2 separate regions of the Homo sapiens genome follow, and region 1 is linked to region 2. Evidence: fine-mapped expression QTL. A gene starts in region 2. The other region holds a variant in brackets. All regions are shown on one strand. Distances are from middle to middle. Region 1 has its middle 33 kb from the start of CTSH. Region 2 holds the start of MORF4L1 (mortality factor 4 like 1).

The links.
Region 1: its variant is fine-mapped to the expression of MORF4L1 in whole blood (TOPMed, PIP 0.98).

What each region holds. Positions count from the first base shown.
Region 1 is chr15:78,907,404-78,915,739 of GRCh38, forward strand. No RefSeq gene overlaps it. Among named protein-coding and RNA genes, the nearest start is that of CTSH, 33 kb to the right of the region's middle. The variant A/C (reference allele first, on the strand shown) is at 3,724.
Region 2 is chr15:78,868,722-78,877,057 of GRCh38, forward strand. It overlaps MORF4L1 (mortality factor 4 like 1), which reads left to right and starts at 4,169. Exons shown (of 12, transcript NM_006791.4): 1 at 4,169-4,336. The coding sequence starts at 4,297. RefSeq lists silencers at 3,941-4,200, 4,611-4,670, 5,672-5,781 and enhancers at 4,756-5,387, 4,781-5,020, 7,246-7,847.

The DNA.
Region 1 (8,336 bases), 39 kb after region 2:
AAGAAATATCAACTACATAGGGTCTTAACGACCAGTTATGAAGACAAGATGAAGACAAGGACTATAACAGCTTTGTGCCTTTTTTCATGTTATAGAATAATCAGATGGGATTACATTTGAATTAGAAAAGTAATTAACATTGCACAGGGAGGGATACAGACTGTTGACACTGGTGAAGAGGATGAGAGTGTCTACCTTTGTATGAAGGATATTGTATCTTACTAGGCCACAGCATGAAGTGGTGGTGTTATGTGGTGATTAAAATATGTGTGGAAGGGTGTATATGGATGCCTAGCATCCTAAGGGGAGGACTGAGTTGGTTATGAAGTTACTGGATCTCAGCTCTAAATCCTGCTCTGTGATCCTGTGGCTGGGACCCTAAATTATTTGTCAGCTGGCTTCTTGTTAGGTTCTGCCAGTAGAGGGCATTAGAGGGACACTGGAAGGCAAGGGTCGGGGGCCGGGGGTGGGGGGTGGTGCGGGGGAAGGGTCTTCCTCCTTCCTGGTGGCTTGCTGTTCTGTTAGCTGCCTGACAGCAGCTGTTGGGTCCAGTCTCTATTTTGGGGGTAGAGGGGGGATGCTCAGAAGTGGCCTCAGAGGTTCCAGCACCCAGAACAGTTTTGCCTTCATTCTCCTCCTTTGCTCCTTGTAACACATATAAATCACCTCTTGGGGGTTTCGGAATTGCCCAAGCTGAGAGGTAGCAGTATCTCCTTGTTATAGTTATCACATTTCTATATTTCTTCCAGATGGAGGAAGGATTACAAAAAGGCAAATGGCCAAATCTTGTTTTACTGGGGCAGGCTTTTCCAAAGGACCAGGCAGAAGCACCATTTTATTTATTTGTTTTAATTTAAAAAAAAATTTTTTTTTGAGACGGAGTCTCGCTTTTTTGTCCAAGCTGGAGTGCAGTGCAGTCTTGGCTCACCACAACCTCCACCTCTCATGTTCAAGCAATTCTCTTGCCTCAGCCTCCCGAGTAGCGGGGATTACAGGTGTGTGCCACCATAACCCAGCTAATTTTTTTGTATTTTTAGTAGAGACGGGGTTTCACCATGTTGGCCAGGCTGGTCTTGAACTCCTGACCTCAAGTGATCCGCCTGCCTTCGCCTCCCAAAGTGCTGGGATTACCATTTTATTTTAAAACACAATTGTGGTTATATTGTTTTGATTTTTTTGAAAAGCTTTACATGAGATTTGATTTCTGGCTGTCTTTTGCTGCGCTAACAAACTGTCCCAGAACTTTATAGCTTAAAACAACCATTTTGTTTTGCTCATACCTTTCTGAATCATGAATTCAGGATAGGCTTGGTTGGGCAGTTCATCTTTGATCCATTTGGCGTTAGCTGCCGTGGCTGAAATTGTGGAGGATCTGCTTCCAAGATGGCTTCTTCACTCATGTATCTCGTACCTCTGTGTTCCTTGGCCCCTCTTTCCTCGACACAGCATCTCAACCACTGAGGGCTTCTCTGCATGGTTTGCACATCTCATACTGTGACTTGCCAGCCTCAGGCTGGTATCTCAGGACTCCAAAATTACATGGTATCTCAGGACTCCAATAGTGAGGGTTCAAAGAGATAAGAAATGGAAGCTGCCAGGCTAGTTAAGGGCTGTGGTTGAAAGTACTGGTTTTTTTTTTTTTTTTTTTTTGGGACAGAGTCTCACTCTGTCGCCCAGGCTGGAGTGCAGTGGTGCAATCTCGGCTCACTGCAAGCTCTGCCTCCTGGGTTCACACCATTCTCCTGCCTCAGCCTCCTGAGTAGCTGGCACTACAGGTGCAAGCCACCATGCAGTAGTCTTTACACTTATTTATTTCTTGACATTTAGAATATTGGAAACAATTAAGAAAATCAGAATTGAAAATGAGGAAGAAGAAATGTGAGATGAATGGTTGGTTTCAGAAGAACAGAAGCATGTGCGTTTGTGATGCAGCCTTGGGGGAGAGAGAGAAGGGCAGCTGAGCCTGGGATATGCTTCCAGTCCTGGGGAGGGGTTTGGGTGGTTGCTGGTGGTGTGTCTAGGGGTGATTAAGTTTAGACAAACCTCTGAGTGTGTGCGTGTTTGTGTGTTTGTGTGTGAAGAGGGAAGTTTGGTATGTCCTTGACCTGGTGCTCTGTGGCATAAAGTTACCATGGGCAGAGCTAATGGCAGATTGTCCTGGGCCTAGGAATGGTCTCAGCATTGCAAAGCTCCCTGGTGAACCTGAGCAATAAAGGTAGCACGTTTCCTCTATGCTTGTGACATATGTGAGGGCTACATGGTTTCCTTCAGGAACTAAGTCAACCTGCCCTTTCTGACCCCAGAGCCGGAGACACAAGGACTCACTCTGGGTGGACTGATCTGGGACCCTGGAGGTTCCTGGTACAACCTGTGTCCACTTGGGACACATTCTTGCACTTTTACTTTTCCAGAGGATTGTGCAAGCCTTTACTTCCATAGGCAGAGAATCTCATCCTTCCCCCTTGATCACCCTTCTCTTCATTATCCAAGAATTCCAGTCTTTCTGAAGCCATACTGGGAGACCAGAAAATTAGATGTGCGCATTATGTTACCATAGTGGCCATAAGGTGTCGCTGTTGTAAGGGTTTCCCCACAATCCATGGGCTCAGCCCATTCCGCCCACCTTCACAGGGCCGAGGTGGCATCCTACTCCAGTGCCCTAAAGCTGCTCCTCTCTTGGCCACCTCATGTTCAGCCATCATCCCTCACAGTAGGACACCCACCAGAGTTTCCAATCCTGCAGCAGCTTCACTCAGCCTACCCACTGTGCGAACCTGGCCTCTGTGAAATTTTAGATCCTGAACTGGGGCCAGCCTCCTCTCCTCCCCTCCCTTCTGAGGGAGTCCCCTTAAGATCTTTTCCTGCCGTGAGCCTGCTTCAGCGCATCCCAGACCACCCGAATGGCTGTCCCCAATTTCATCTCTGGGTTCCTGTGCAAATTGGTCCACCTTGCACCCTGGAATCCCGAGAGAGATCGTCTTTGCTGAACTACAAACAGCAAACCGGAGATCTTGTGTATAGCATTCCCCTAGAACAACACACACTGACTTTACATTCACATAACCACGGGAAGTTGGTCACATGATTTTTCCCATAATAATGAAAATCTGTTCTCTGTCTCTAGCCTAGACTTACTCTATCACTCTACATTTGCATAATTCCCTTAAAATGTTTTAAAAATATGCCAAGAACTATTTTTTAAAAAGCATCCCATAATATTACCTTTCAGCTACTCCCTTGTATCGGCTAGGCTCCCTGAGAAAGAACACAGTCTACTGGGTACTGTGAGGGGAGCTTGATAAAGGACTTGTTTACCAAGGTGGACAGGAGGAGGGAACCCACCAGGCCTTAGATGGGGCAGTGCCGTAGATGGAGTTACGTAGATGGAGCTCAGTTACCACCCTGGGCCTGGCGGGCAGGGCCAGGTCTCCTCACAGCATAGTCATTTTGAATCACTTTCAGACTTTTTAAGAATCCTAAGGACTCTGCATCCTCTTTGGAGAGGCAGCAGAGAGGGAGGCTGAGAACAGATACTCTGGAGCTGGAGGGCTCGGGTATAAACCCTGATTCTGCCACTAAGCAATTTTGTGGTTTGGGGCAAGTTGCTTAACCAATCTGTGCCTCGGCTTCCTCATGTGAAAGTGGGGATCATGATAGTATCTACCTCACAGGGTTGCTGTGGGGAGTTAGTGTGCTGTATATTTCTTAGTGCAGTGCCTGGCC[A/C]ATAAAAAGTGTCTGTTAAACCAAGAAAACACCAGTGTTTGAGCTGAGCTGATTAACCTGCTTCACTCGCAAGAAGGAAGGGCTTCTCTCTTGCCCTTTGATAGAAGTCAAAAGACCAGCATCTCTGTAGGCTCTCAGAGTCCCTCAGGAGCATAGGGGAAATTGCTCTGTCAGTTTTCTTTTTTGAGACGGAGTCTCACTCTGTCACCCAGGCTGGAGTGCAGTGGTGCAATCTCAGCTCACTGCAACCTCCGCCTCCCTGGTTCAAGCAATTCTCTCGTCTCAGCCTCCTGAGTAGCTGGGATTACTGGTACCCGTCATCATGCCTGGCTAATTTTTGTATTTTTGTAGAGATGGGGTTTCACCATGTTGTTCAGGCTGGTCTTGAACTCCTGACCTTGTGATCTGCCCACCTCGGCCTCGCAAAGTGCTGGGATTACAGGCGTGAGTCACCGTACCTGGCCTACTCTGTCAGTTTTACCATCTTCTCCTTAGGTTTCTGGCGCAGGGGCTTTGGGCTTGGCAGGCCAGGAGTGCCCTTGGGCGGGGTCACCACAAGGGCTGCAGCCCTGATTCAGTATTCTTAACCAGCTGGTGGGATGCTTCCTCCTCTGTCCCCCATGGTTGCTGTTTCCCAGGAGGCCCTGTGGTCCTTCATGCAAGTTGCCTTTGGCCCCGCTCTCCAAGTCAGTCCAGGCTAATACAGCCTCATGCTGAAACTCTTGTGTTTACCTAAACTCTGAGTGCTGTTTGGATGCTAGGAACAATTACTAAAGAAAATGTATATATACACAGTGGAATGCTATACAACCTTTAAAAAGGAAATCCTGCCATTGTGATAACAGGGATGAACCTGAAGGATTTTATGCTAAGTGAAATAAGCCAGACACAGAAAACAAGTACCGCATGATCTTCACTTATACGTGGAATTTTAAAAAGTTGAACTCATAGAAGCAGAGAGTAGAATGTTGATTAGCAGAGGTCGGAGGGGGAGATATAGGGAAAGGGAGATATTGGTCAAAGATGTTGGTTTCAGACATTTTAGAGATCTGTTGCACAGTATGGTGACCATACATTTCAAAATAGCCAGAAGACTAGATTTTAAACATTTTCACCACAAAAAAGGGTAAGTAGGTGAGGTGTTGGATATGTAAGTTTGATTAATCTTTCTGCAATGCGTACATATATCGAAACATCACATTGTACCCCATAAACATGTATAATGATTGTCTGTTTAAAAAAGTTTATATTTCATCCTGAGTTCAAAACCCGTAACTGAATTAAGTGACTGCTGGTGGGAACCAGGTAAACCTTCCATTCAGCTTAACTTTTGAGATGAGCTTGGCATTTCTTGATGTTGCTAGGGGAAAAACCTCAGGAGTTGTGTTGTAACAGGAAGTTAAGAGTAAGATTGCTGATTTCATTCATTAGTTCAGTGAGTTTCTGTAATGAAGAATATATGTGTACCCATAAGAGTCAATATGCATGTTTACTTTGTAAAGAAAAAAGCATTTCATAACGAATGACTTGAATTTGGCCTCTTGGTTTTTTGTGTAATTACATGTAATGGAGACTGGTTTATTGCTGACGGTGGGGTCTTCCTGGTTCATTGTAGTGGTGCTTGTGAGCTGGGGTTTTATCCTAATGTCACTCTACCGTGGGAAACGTAATGATCTGTTTATTTGGAAGCCTTAGAACAATGCTACATCTCTAAAAAATACTTTGACCTTAAAATTTCAGGTCATACACCCATTATGTCAAGTAGATGCTGTAATCCTGTGAGGAAGGTGTTAGTCTCACCTCCATTTTTGAGGCTCACAGCAGGAGTTGGGAAGTAAGGAGGAAGAGCAGTAAAGATTTTAGGAGTTAGACCTGGGTTTGAATCCCAGCTCTCTTGCGTTAGTTGTAGGGCCTTGGGAAAGTGAATCATTCTCCCACCTGTAAAATGAGGATATTAATAAATCCTACCTTATAGGTCATTGTAAGGGCTGGAAGTAATAAATGTGAAATAGCATAGTCCAGCATAATACAGCAAGGACACTGGAGTAGGTTTTTATTGATTTTTGCTCATGGTGATAAAGTGAATGGCTGAGCTGGAATTTGAACCCAGGCAACCAGAGGCCACCACCATTTTGTACCTTCTTTGTGTTCGGGTGATGATTAATTCCCACGAATGATGGCATGGCTCCTGCTGGAGCTGTGAATGCCTTCTGCTCTGGAAGCCAGTGAGGATTCCTGAATCAGTTTCTGGGCCTCCACCTAGCACATGTTCTGGATGAGGGGTCTGGCACAGGTGGCCACCAAGAGCAGGGCTAGTGACCCCAAGAGCAGATGAAGGCTTTATGTACACCAGAGCACAAGGCAGGTGGACCCAAATAGGGTGACCACTTTCTGTTGGTACAGCTGGCTGCATCAAAGTGAAAATGCGGGGCCCCTTGTTCAAAAAGCAGGAAACCAGGCTGGGCACAGTGGCTCATGCCTGTAATCCCAGCACTTTGGGAGGCTGAGGTGGGTGTTGAAGACCAGCCTGGCCAATGTGGCAAAACTCCGTCTCTACTAAAAATACAGAAATTAGCCAGGCATGATGGTGTGCGTCTGTAATCCCCGCTACTGGGGAGGCTGAGGCATAAGAATCACTTGAACCTGGAAGGTGGAGGTTGCAGTGAGCTGAGATCACGCTACTGCACTGCAGCTTGGGCAACAGAGCAAGACTCTGTCTCAAAAAAACAAAAAACAAAGCAGGAAACCAGTGCCATTAAAGGTATGAGAAAATACAACATATTTTCTTTTCTCCTGTGGCCTCTCTCTTGACCTCTCATAGTGTTTTCCATGTGTTATTTAATATTGTACTCCCTTGGACATAGGGAGAATTGCCTGGCAGGTACAGGCTGTCATAGGCATCTGGGGTCCTGCTGTGCAACTCCATGTACACATGGCCCATCAGCCTCCAAACAAATACCTGGACCTAGCCGGGGCAGGAAGTCAGTCTCCCCCTTCCATGGACCTGCTGTTCCTACTCATGCAGACAGGTGGCCCACAGGGATTGCAGCCTCTGTGCTGGAACGTGTTTTATATCTCGATCGGGCGGGTGAGAGGTTCACTCCCACTGAACCTGGCGTGCCATAGAGCTGCCAGCCTGGGTCAGGGGTAGCCACCACCATGCCCCATCCTGAGCTGCTATGAAGCGTGCGTGCCTGGCTCCAAATCCTCCCGATCTCTCATTCAGGCTTCTGCCATGTGTTAGAGAAGTGAGTGGCTCAGAAACTGGCCAAGAGAGGCAGGAAGGTGGTGGGAGGTGGTAACACGTGTCAGCCAAGGCTCCACGCCCCCTGGCATGTGCTCCAGTTGTCCCCTTGGACTCACTTACAAAAACACATGTTCAAAGAGAAAATAATTATGCATGTTAAGATGATGACGGCAGAGCATTAAAACCCCAGTGCTGTATGACTTCACTGGTCATATGCCCTTGGAGCCAGCCCTGCCTGGCCATGTTCCTGAGGTTTTTTGCAGTTTTAATAGCACTAAAAGTTCCAGGTCCCAGAAGTACTCTCAGTCCCAGGCAAATCGGGCTGGTTGGTCACCACACACCCAGAACAAGGCTACTCCCAGCCTAAATTCTTCTTCAGTGATCTTAGCTAGAATTTGACAACCTAGAAGGAAGCTATTAATTTTTGCATGCATGTACATTTGTGGCATTTCTTTTTTTTCTCTTTTTTTTTTGAGATGGAGTTTTGCTCTTGTTGCCTAAGCTGGAGTGCAATGGTGAGATCTCGACTCACCGCAAACTCCACCTCCCGGGTTCAAGCGATTCTCCAGCCTCAGCCTCCCAAGTAGCTGGGACTACAGGCATGCGCCACCATGCCCGGCTAATTTTGTATTTGTAGTAGAGACGGGGTTTCTCCATGTTGCTCAGGCTGGTCTCGAACTCCCAACCTCAGGTGATTCACCTGCCTCGGCCTCCCAAAGTGCTGGGATTACAGGCATGAGCCACCATGCCTGGCCCATTTGTGACATTTCAAGCAATATACATTTATTCTACATTTTATTCACACACATATATCTAAGTAGGAGAAGGGGCTTAATCTTCCCAGATCTTAGGACTGCTGAAGTTCTTCAGCCTGGTCCCCAGCAGGGTAGCTTCTGTGCCCTCCAGTAGTGGCTGAATTCACAAAAGGGGGCAAATCAACTTGCACCCGGCTCTGCAGGAGTGGACATTTTTGCACACGCCCCTGAATCACTCCCAGAGGCCACCAGCAATTGTACCAAAGAGAAGGTTCCCGTACTGAGGAATCCAGCCCTTGTCACAGGCGTCTGGTTGGGTGGAGCATGTGCTGGCTAGGGCCCAGACCACCCCAGGTTCCTCTCCTATGGCTTGTAACCATGGGCAAGCCACATCATCTCACTGAGCCTCAGCTTCCTCTTCTATAAATGGGACTATCTTGCCTCATAGACCAGGAGGGAGGACTAAAGGAAGTCAGATGACTGGAGTGCCAGAACAGAGCCTGGCCTGCACTAGGTGCTTAATGAATAAGAGCTTGATCTATGCAGATGGAACTTTTACAACAGTCCCACATGAAACCTGGCTGGCAGGATGGCTCTTGGCTGTCTCCAGG
Region 2 (8,336 bases):
AAAAAAAAAAGAAAAGAAAAAGCAATGTGCACAAAGATTAGATAAATCTTGAAATATTTATACTATGGTATGTCGAAAGCTATTGAAAATGTGAGGGACTCATGTTTGTAATCCCACCACTTTGGGAGGCAGAGGTGGAAGGATTACTTGAGGCTACGAGTTGGAAACCAGCCCAGTCAACATAGCGAGAGCACATCTCTGCAAAAATAAAAGTATTAGTTGGGTGTGGTGGCATCCACCTGTAGTCCCAGCTACTGGGGAGGCTGAGGCAGGAGGATCACTTGAACCCAGGAGCTGCAAGCTGCAGTGAGCCATGATCATGCCACTGTGCTCCAGCCTGGGAGACAGAACAAGACGCTGTTTCAAAAAAAAAAAAAAAAAAAAGGTGAGATAGGCCTGTATGTAATTTGAACAATCTCCAAGATATATTATTATGTTAAAAAAGAATACAACTGGGCCGGGCGTGGTGGCTCACGCCTGTAATCCCAGCACTTTGGGAGGTTGAGGCGGGCGGATCACAAGGTCAAGAGATCGAGACCATCCTGGCCAACTTGGTGAAACCCTGTCTCTACTAAAAATACAAAACTTAGCCGGGCATGGTGGCGGGCGTCTGTAATCCCAGCTACTTAGGAGGCTGAGGCAGGAGAATCGCTGGAATCCGGGAGGCGGAGGTTGCAGTGAGCCGAGATCTCACCACTGCACTCCAGCCTGGCGAAAGAGCGAGACTCCGTCTCAAAAAAAAAAAAAAAAAAGAATGCAACTGAACAATATGTACAGACCATTTATGGTTAAAAAAAAAAAATGGAGAAAAATGCACACGCCAAATGGTGGGAAGGTAAATGGGGGGAGCGGGGAATAAACATGTTCCTTAAGTTTTGCCCTGTATTTTATATTTCTCAATTGTTGCATCATGAGCCCAAATATTTGAATATTACCTGTGTAATTAACACATAAAGGCAAATAAGTTAACTTCAATACAAAAGAAGAAATAACACAAAGAGGGTTCTAGGATAAAAAAACTCATGGATTCCCAAACAACTCATAACAGTGGGGGAACTGGGCAGATGAGGGGTGGAGGTGGGAAAGAGACTTTCACTATTTTCTTTTTTTTTTTTTTTTTGAGATGGAGCCTCACTCTGTCGCCCAGGCTGGAGTGCAGTGGCGTAATCTCGGCTTACTGCAAGCTCCGCCTCTTGGGTTCATGCCATGCTCCTGCCTCAGCCTCCTGAGTAGCTGGGACTACAGGCGCCCACCACCACGCCCAGCTAATTTTTTATATTTTTAGTAGAGATGGAGTTTCACCGTGTTAGCCAGGATGGTCTTGATCTCCTGACCTCGTGATCCGCCTGCCTTGGCTTCCCAAAGTGCTGGGATTACAGGCGTGAGCCACCGCGCCCGGCCCACTATTTTCATTTTTGTATTTTTAAACGTTTGGATTAAAAAAGTATGTGCAGGCTGGGCGCAGTGGCTCACGTCTGTAATCCCAGCACTTTGAGAGGCCGAGGCGGGTGGATCACCTGAGGTCAGGAGTTCGAGAACAGCCTGGCCAACATGGTGAAACCCCATCCCTACTAAATATACAAAAATTAGCCGGCCATAGTGGTATGCGCCTGTAAACCCAGCTACTTGGGAGGCTGAGGCAGAAGAATCGCTTCAATCTAGGAGGTGGAGGCTGCAGTGAGCTGAGACTGCACCACTGCACTCTAGCCTGGGTGACAGAGTGAGACTTGGTCTCATAACAACAACAACAACAAAAAATTGGCTGGGCGCAGTGGCTCATGCCTGTAATCCCAGCACTTTGGTAGGCCAAGGCAGGAGGATCATAAGGTCAGGAGATCGAGACCATCCTGGCCAACATGGTGAAACCCCATCTCCACTAAGATACAAAAAAGTAGCTGGGCGTGATGGCACACCGAGTCCCAGCAACTCAGGAGGCTGAGGCAGGGGAATCGCTTGAACCCAAGAGGCAGAGGTTGCAGTGAGCTGAGACTGTGCCACTGCACTCCAGCCTGGCTACGGAGCGAGACTGTCTCAAAAAAATAATTTAAAAAAAGTACGTATTTTATATTCAATAAAAAATTTAAAAGTGTACAGGACAGTTTTGGTGGGGTGGGGTCCAAAGAAGCCCTTGTCCCTTTTTACAATTTAGCAATGGTGTCCAAGGGAGTGAATACAGTCATGGGTTCTTAGTTTCTGTTTCTGGTTGGGCCAGTAAAGCCCCTTCCTCATCCCCCTTTTCCACTTATCACTAGAGACTGAAACTAAAAACCATGGCTTCAGGGTGCTAAAAGCCTAAACAAAACAAAACAAAACAACAACAAAATAAGACAGGTTGGACAAGCTTGCGAGAAGTAGTCGTGACAAGATGGTGTATATTCAACTGGAATAAGGAAGGTTTTTGTGGGTTTCTGTTGTCAGAGAAGGGGTTGTGTTAAAAAGACTGAAGGAGAAATGGAAGTCAGATAAATGGAGAGGGGCCCGGAATTGGTGGGGTGTGGAACCCGGGCAGGGGAGGGCTTAGAAAAGCCATGGAGACAGGCTGGGCGCAGTGGCTCACGCCTGTAATCCCAGCACTCTGGGAGGCCGAGGCCAGCGGGTCACCTAAGGTCGGGAGTTCAAGACCAGCCTGACTAACATGAAGAAACCCCATCTCTACAAAAACACAAAAATTAGCCCGGTGTGGTGTCACATGCCTGTAATCCCAGCTACTCGGGAGGCTGAGGCAGGAGAATCGCTTGAACCTGGGAGGCAGAGGTTGCAGTGAGCTGAGATCGCGCCTTTGCACTACAGCCTGGTTAATAAGAGGGAAACTCCGTCTCAGAAAGAAAAAAAAAAAAAAGAAAAGTCATGGAGACAAAGGTTTGCGTAGGAGGATAAAGGTTTACATAGGGGATGCAGGTAGGCTAAGGGCTGTTTGTGGAAGGATTTAAATACCAGGCTAAGGACTTTGAGATTTATCGTCTAAAGTTCATTGAGCACTTATTCATTGTTGGGTACCGCGCTAAGCCCGTATATGTAATTCTCACAATAAACTGACGGAAATGGTGCTATTTTGCAGCTTAGCCAACAAAGTTGTTTTTGAACAGGGAACGACATAAATCCGTTTGTTTAGGCCAGGCACGGTGGCTCACGCCTGTAATCCCAGAACTTTGGAAGGCCAAACCGGGCGGATCACGAGGTCAGGAGTTCCAGACCAGCCTGGCCAACATGGTGAAACCCAGTATCTACTAAAAATACAAAAATTAGCTGGGCGTGGTGGCACATGCCTGTAATCCCAGCTACTCCGGAGGCTGAGGCAGGAGAATCGATTGAACCTGGGAGGCGAAGGCTGCAGTAAGCAGAGATCGCGCCACTGCACTCCAGTCTGGGCAACGGAGCGACACTCCATCTCAGAAAAAAAAAAAAAGGTATAATATTGAAGAAATCCGTTTGTTTAGAGTGACAAGAAGCACAAACAGGGCAGGTACGGAATACAGACGTTGACATATTCACACTAGCCTTTTTCAGAAAGCAGAGCTCCATTATCTCAAAAAGCTAAAGCGTGACTAGTGTTTCCCACGTCATCATCCTCATTTCCGCAAGGCTGGGCTGGAGAAGAGGAGGTAGACCTAGGAGCCAACAAATGGCTATCAATCCCACCAAATAGGCTCCGCAGTGGGGTTGCTAAACAACGAAGCTTCCAGAAGCGGACCCCAGTTCCCACCCTCTTGCTGATCCTAAAGCCTTTCTATGCAAAAACTAGCGGAATGCTATTGAATGTAGGTTTCCGAGCCAGCCCTATTCTCTCCGACTACTTCAACATCAACGGGGGCTTATTTGCCCAAGGGACGTCGCAACTGGGCCTTTCCCATTCTATTATCACTGGTGGCTCACCACCCCCACTCTCCCCCATCGCCAGCTCCGCCTTAACCTCCCACGAAATCAAATCCCCGCTTTACCAACCCGCAGCAGCCGGGGGCATGGAGAGAGAAGCGGGGGTGGGGTGGGGTAGGGTAGCCGGCCCCTCCCCCACCCGGGGGGGGGGGGGGGGCGCCTCCACCGACTCCGAACTACCAGTCCCGGCGTGCCCTGGGGCGGCGCGGGCGCAGGGGCGCGTGCGCGGCGGGCTGTCGTTGGCTGGAGCAGCGGCTGCGCGGGTCGCGGTGCTGTGAGGTCTGCGGGCGCTGGCAAATCCGGCCCAGGATGTAGAGCTGGCAGTGCCTGACGGCGCGTCTGACGCGGAGTTGGGTGGGGTAGAGAGTAGGGGGCGGTAGTCGGGGGTGGTGGGAGAAGGAGGAGGCGGCGAATCACTTATAAATGGCGCCGAAGCAGGACCCGAAGCCTAAATTCCAGGAGGGTGAGTGTGCGCCTTTGGGAAAAAGGCACCTAACGGCGCAGGAGATAGAGGCGGGCTCGAGGTGATTGAGGCTTGAGGGCCGGGGGCGGCGCGGGCTGCGCCCTGAGAAGGCGGCGGTCAGTGCTTTGTGCGGGGAAAGCGCATTGCGGATGGCAATTCCGGTGCGTCATTGTGAGAAAGCGCTTTGTGAAGCGAGAGTGCTGCGCAGGCGTTAGAGTGGGAGAGAGAGCGTTTGGCGCGTGGCACACCCTCGTCAAGTGTTTGTTATTGTTCTGAGGAAGAGGGCGCGGAGAGAGCAGCCTATTGTAGGGAGGCGACGGGAGCGCCATGGCGGCGGTTAGGGGAAGTGATGTGGCGGCGGGGGGGGAGGGGCGGTGGCTGTTTCGGGCGGTCCTGCGGCGCGCCCGGCCGCTTGGGCAGCTACGACGGGTTTTTCGGTGCTTCCTGGAGCCCCGGGGTGGTTGCGTTCGGTGGCAACTCAGCTGCGGATGGGGGTGGGTTTGGCGCCACGGGGCGGGAGAAGTGCGTTGTAAAATGGCCGTTGCAAGATGGCGGCGCCATCATGGCCGCCGGCGTCTCGGTCCCGTATGGAGGCACAGCTTACGGGCAGATGCAGCGCCCCCTTCCACGACGACCAGAAGGTTGCCGGGGCCCTCCGCATACCACAGAGTGGTGGGTGGGGACAGAAAAAAAAAAGTGAGATGAGCGTTTTCCTCCGCTTTGTGTTGCCTGGAGGCATCACTCTGCTATTCTTGGGCGCAGTGCCGAGATCCTATGGTAATGTGAGTGAGCTCTCGCTTTGCAGTTGCTCGTAAAAAGTAAATAAAAATGATCTGAATGCAGTGTTGACGCCGTTTGCATTTGTAAGTCCCATTGCCTCGACGTCATTTTTTAAATGCAGTAATTGTTTGATTAGTTGCAGTGTTTAACAATGACTTGAAAGTTGAATTTCTTTTTATTAATTGGTTTTCGATTGACATGAGTTTTGGGTAAGGTTAGACTGACTCCCAGTGGAAGGCAGCTCTTTAAATTTTCACAACGCTTCAGTTAACGTATAATAAGGTGGAGGTCTAATAGCTAAAAAGGAAGTAAAGTCCTGTTGAGAAAGGAGGAACACTTTAACATTCCTTTTCATTGCTATGGAAATTTATGCTAGTTACCGTAAATACGATGTCTACATGCGTACGATTTTTGTTCTAGGGGTTTTTAGACTTGCATTAGAATTCCTTTTAGAGCCGTAAACCTCAAACCGTAGTACTGCGTATTTTAAGTTTATGGAATATTTAAGGAGGTTTTAGGGGTATTTTGTTAATGAGTGACTTTTTTTGTTTGTATTTTTGAGACGATGTTTGTCACCCAGGCTGTAGTGCAGTGACGCTATCTCGGCTCACCTCTGCCCCCCACCCGGGCTAAAGCGAGCCTCCCAAGTAGCTGGGATCACAGACGCGCGCCATCACGTCCGGCTAAGTTTTGTTTTGTTCTGTTTTGTTTTTTAGGGTTTTTGTTTTTTCTTTTCTTTTTCTTTCTTTTTTTTTTTTTTTTTTTGTATTTTTGGTAGAGACGGGGTTTCATGTTGCCCAGGCTGGTCTCGAACTCCTGGGCTTGAGCGATCCACCCGCCTCGGCCTCCCAAAGTTGTGGGGGGTTAACGGGCGTGAGGCATCGCTCTCGGCCGTGTGACTTTTAATACCCCTCTCTCACCTTGAGAAGCTGTTGACTCTACCTCCTATGGGTTCATTATTTTACTAGACATTTTAGAGCAGATATTCTTAATCTAGAGTCAGTGCATTAATTGAGACGGTGCGTGAAATTGAGGAAGATTTTTTTTTCTATCTCCCAAGTTTAGTATTTCAATTAACAGTGTAATTGCTCCCCCTAAACCCCGAAAAAAACCACCACATTAGCATTTTCAGTATATTTTCATATCTCAACATTACAGTTATGGAAGATGTTTTCAGTTATCGCATTCTTATTTCTTCAAAATTAGGGTAGTTATTGTATTAGCAGCCAAGTCTTGTTTGTCCTGTAATGTCATAGAACGTGACATTTAAAGTGTTTTGTTTCAGTACAGTTGGTTTCCTTTGTACTAGTGTGTGTTTTATGTATTTATGAAACTATTAGGCTCGTAGGGTTTATCAGACTGTCAAGGCACAAAAAGTTAATCGCTGCTGTGGGAACAACCTAAGGATGGCTGTTCTGGAAGAAGCGCTTTAGTTCTAGAGGGTTGCTAGTTAAGAGAGGAGTAGCAGCAGAGATTTCCTTGTGCCGTTTTAAGTGGGGTAATTGGAGAAGAGTAGGAACCAAGGTATCCCCAGGTAAGGGTTTGAAAGCTGTGTAAGAGAGTCTGTATTTAACATTACTTTCCAGGTGTGTTTTGTACTTGTGTTTAAAATGGAATTGTGTAACCACGTTTTAAAAATGATTTTAGTGGGTGGGGCACGGTGGCTCACGCCTCTAATCCCAGCACTTTGGGAGGCCGAGGTGGGTGGGGGCGGTGGATCACCTGAGGTCAGCGGTTCGAGACCAGCCTGGTCAGCCTGGTGAGCCTGGTGAAACCCAGTCTCTACTAAAAATACAAAAATTAGCAGGGCGTGGTGTTAGGCTCCTGTAATCCCGGCTACTCGGGCGGCTGAGACAGGAAATCGCTTGAACCCGGGAGTCGGAGGTTGCAGTAGGCCGAGATCCTGCCATCGCACTCCAGCCTGGGCCACAGAGTGAGACTCCATTTCAAAAAAAAAAAAAATTTATTAATTAGATGATCGGAGAATATCTTGCAAGGGAAAAAGAATATTTGATGAGTGCTAACAGAATCGTCTTGAAACACTGTAGAGTTTATGTAATGGTAGAGAAAAGAGTGGCGAGAAGTAGTGTTTTTTTGTTTTGTTTTGTTTTTTTCTTTTTGAGACAGTCTTGCTCTGTCGCCCAGGCTGGAGTCCAGTGGCGCGATCTCGGGTCACTGCAGCCTCCGCCTCCTGGGTTCAAGCGATTCACCTGCCTCAGCCTCCTGAGTAGCTGGGATTATAGGCACGCGCCACCACGCCCAGCTAATTTTTGTATTTTTAGTAGAGACGGGGTTTCACCATGTTGGCCAGGATGGTCTCGATCTCCTGACCTCGTGATCCGCCTACTTCGCCGTCGCAAAGTTCTGGGATTACAGGTGCGAGCCACCGCGCCCGGCCGAGAAATAGGGTTTTTAATGATTCTTGTAAACTTGTTAAAAAAAAAACAACTCGTAAACTTATAAAAAAGTTTTTTTTTATTTGATAATGGCGTGCAATATATGTTGTATAAGCAATTCTTAAGGCATAGTGATTGCTTTGCACTGGACTTGGTTTTCCATTGGAAATTCTTTTTTGTTTTGTTTTGTTTAGATTTTGAGACGGAGCATTTGCTGTCCTGGGTCATACTCCTCAGCTAGCTGTATATTTTTTCAACAAAATACTAGGGCCTCGTAGCTAGAATGGAGGTCACAGGGCCTCGGTTTCAGTGCACTTTTTTTTCCGGCAGTAGCAGCCAAGGGGAGAAAAATGGTAGGCCATTTTCAGAGTGCCTTTAAAATGTACCAGGAGAGTGAAATTAGGAAACACAGATCTGATCTGATCTTGTTCGCTGTTTATTAGCAGTATAGTTTACCCATTTTAGTTCTCGTTCCTGGGCCGTTGGAGAAGTCTTTGATCTTCCCGTTTTCCAGTCTCCGTCTTTAATTCAGAAATGCTATTCGTAGGTCCAGCAGCCTCTAGCAGTGATTCTTTATAGAGTGACCACTTAAAAGAATTATAGAACTGATTTAAAAATAAAGTTAATAGGTCGTGCTCTGGGAGAGTCTAATAATATGGGTCTTTGGTGGGGCTTGAAAATACATAGTTTTAAAAAATATTTTAAATTTTAGTGGTTTTTTTTTGAGGCGGAGTCTTGCTCTCCCATCCGGGCTGGAGTGCAGTGGTGTGATCTCTGCTCACTGCGACCTCCAGCTCCTGGGTTCAAGCGATTCTCATGTCTCA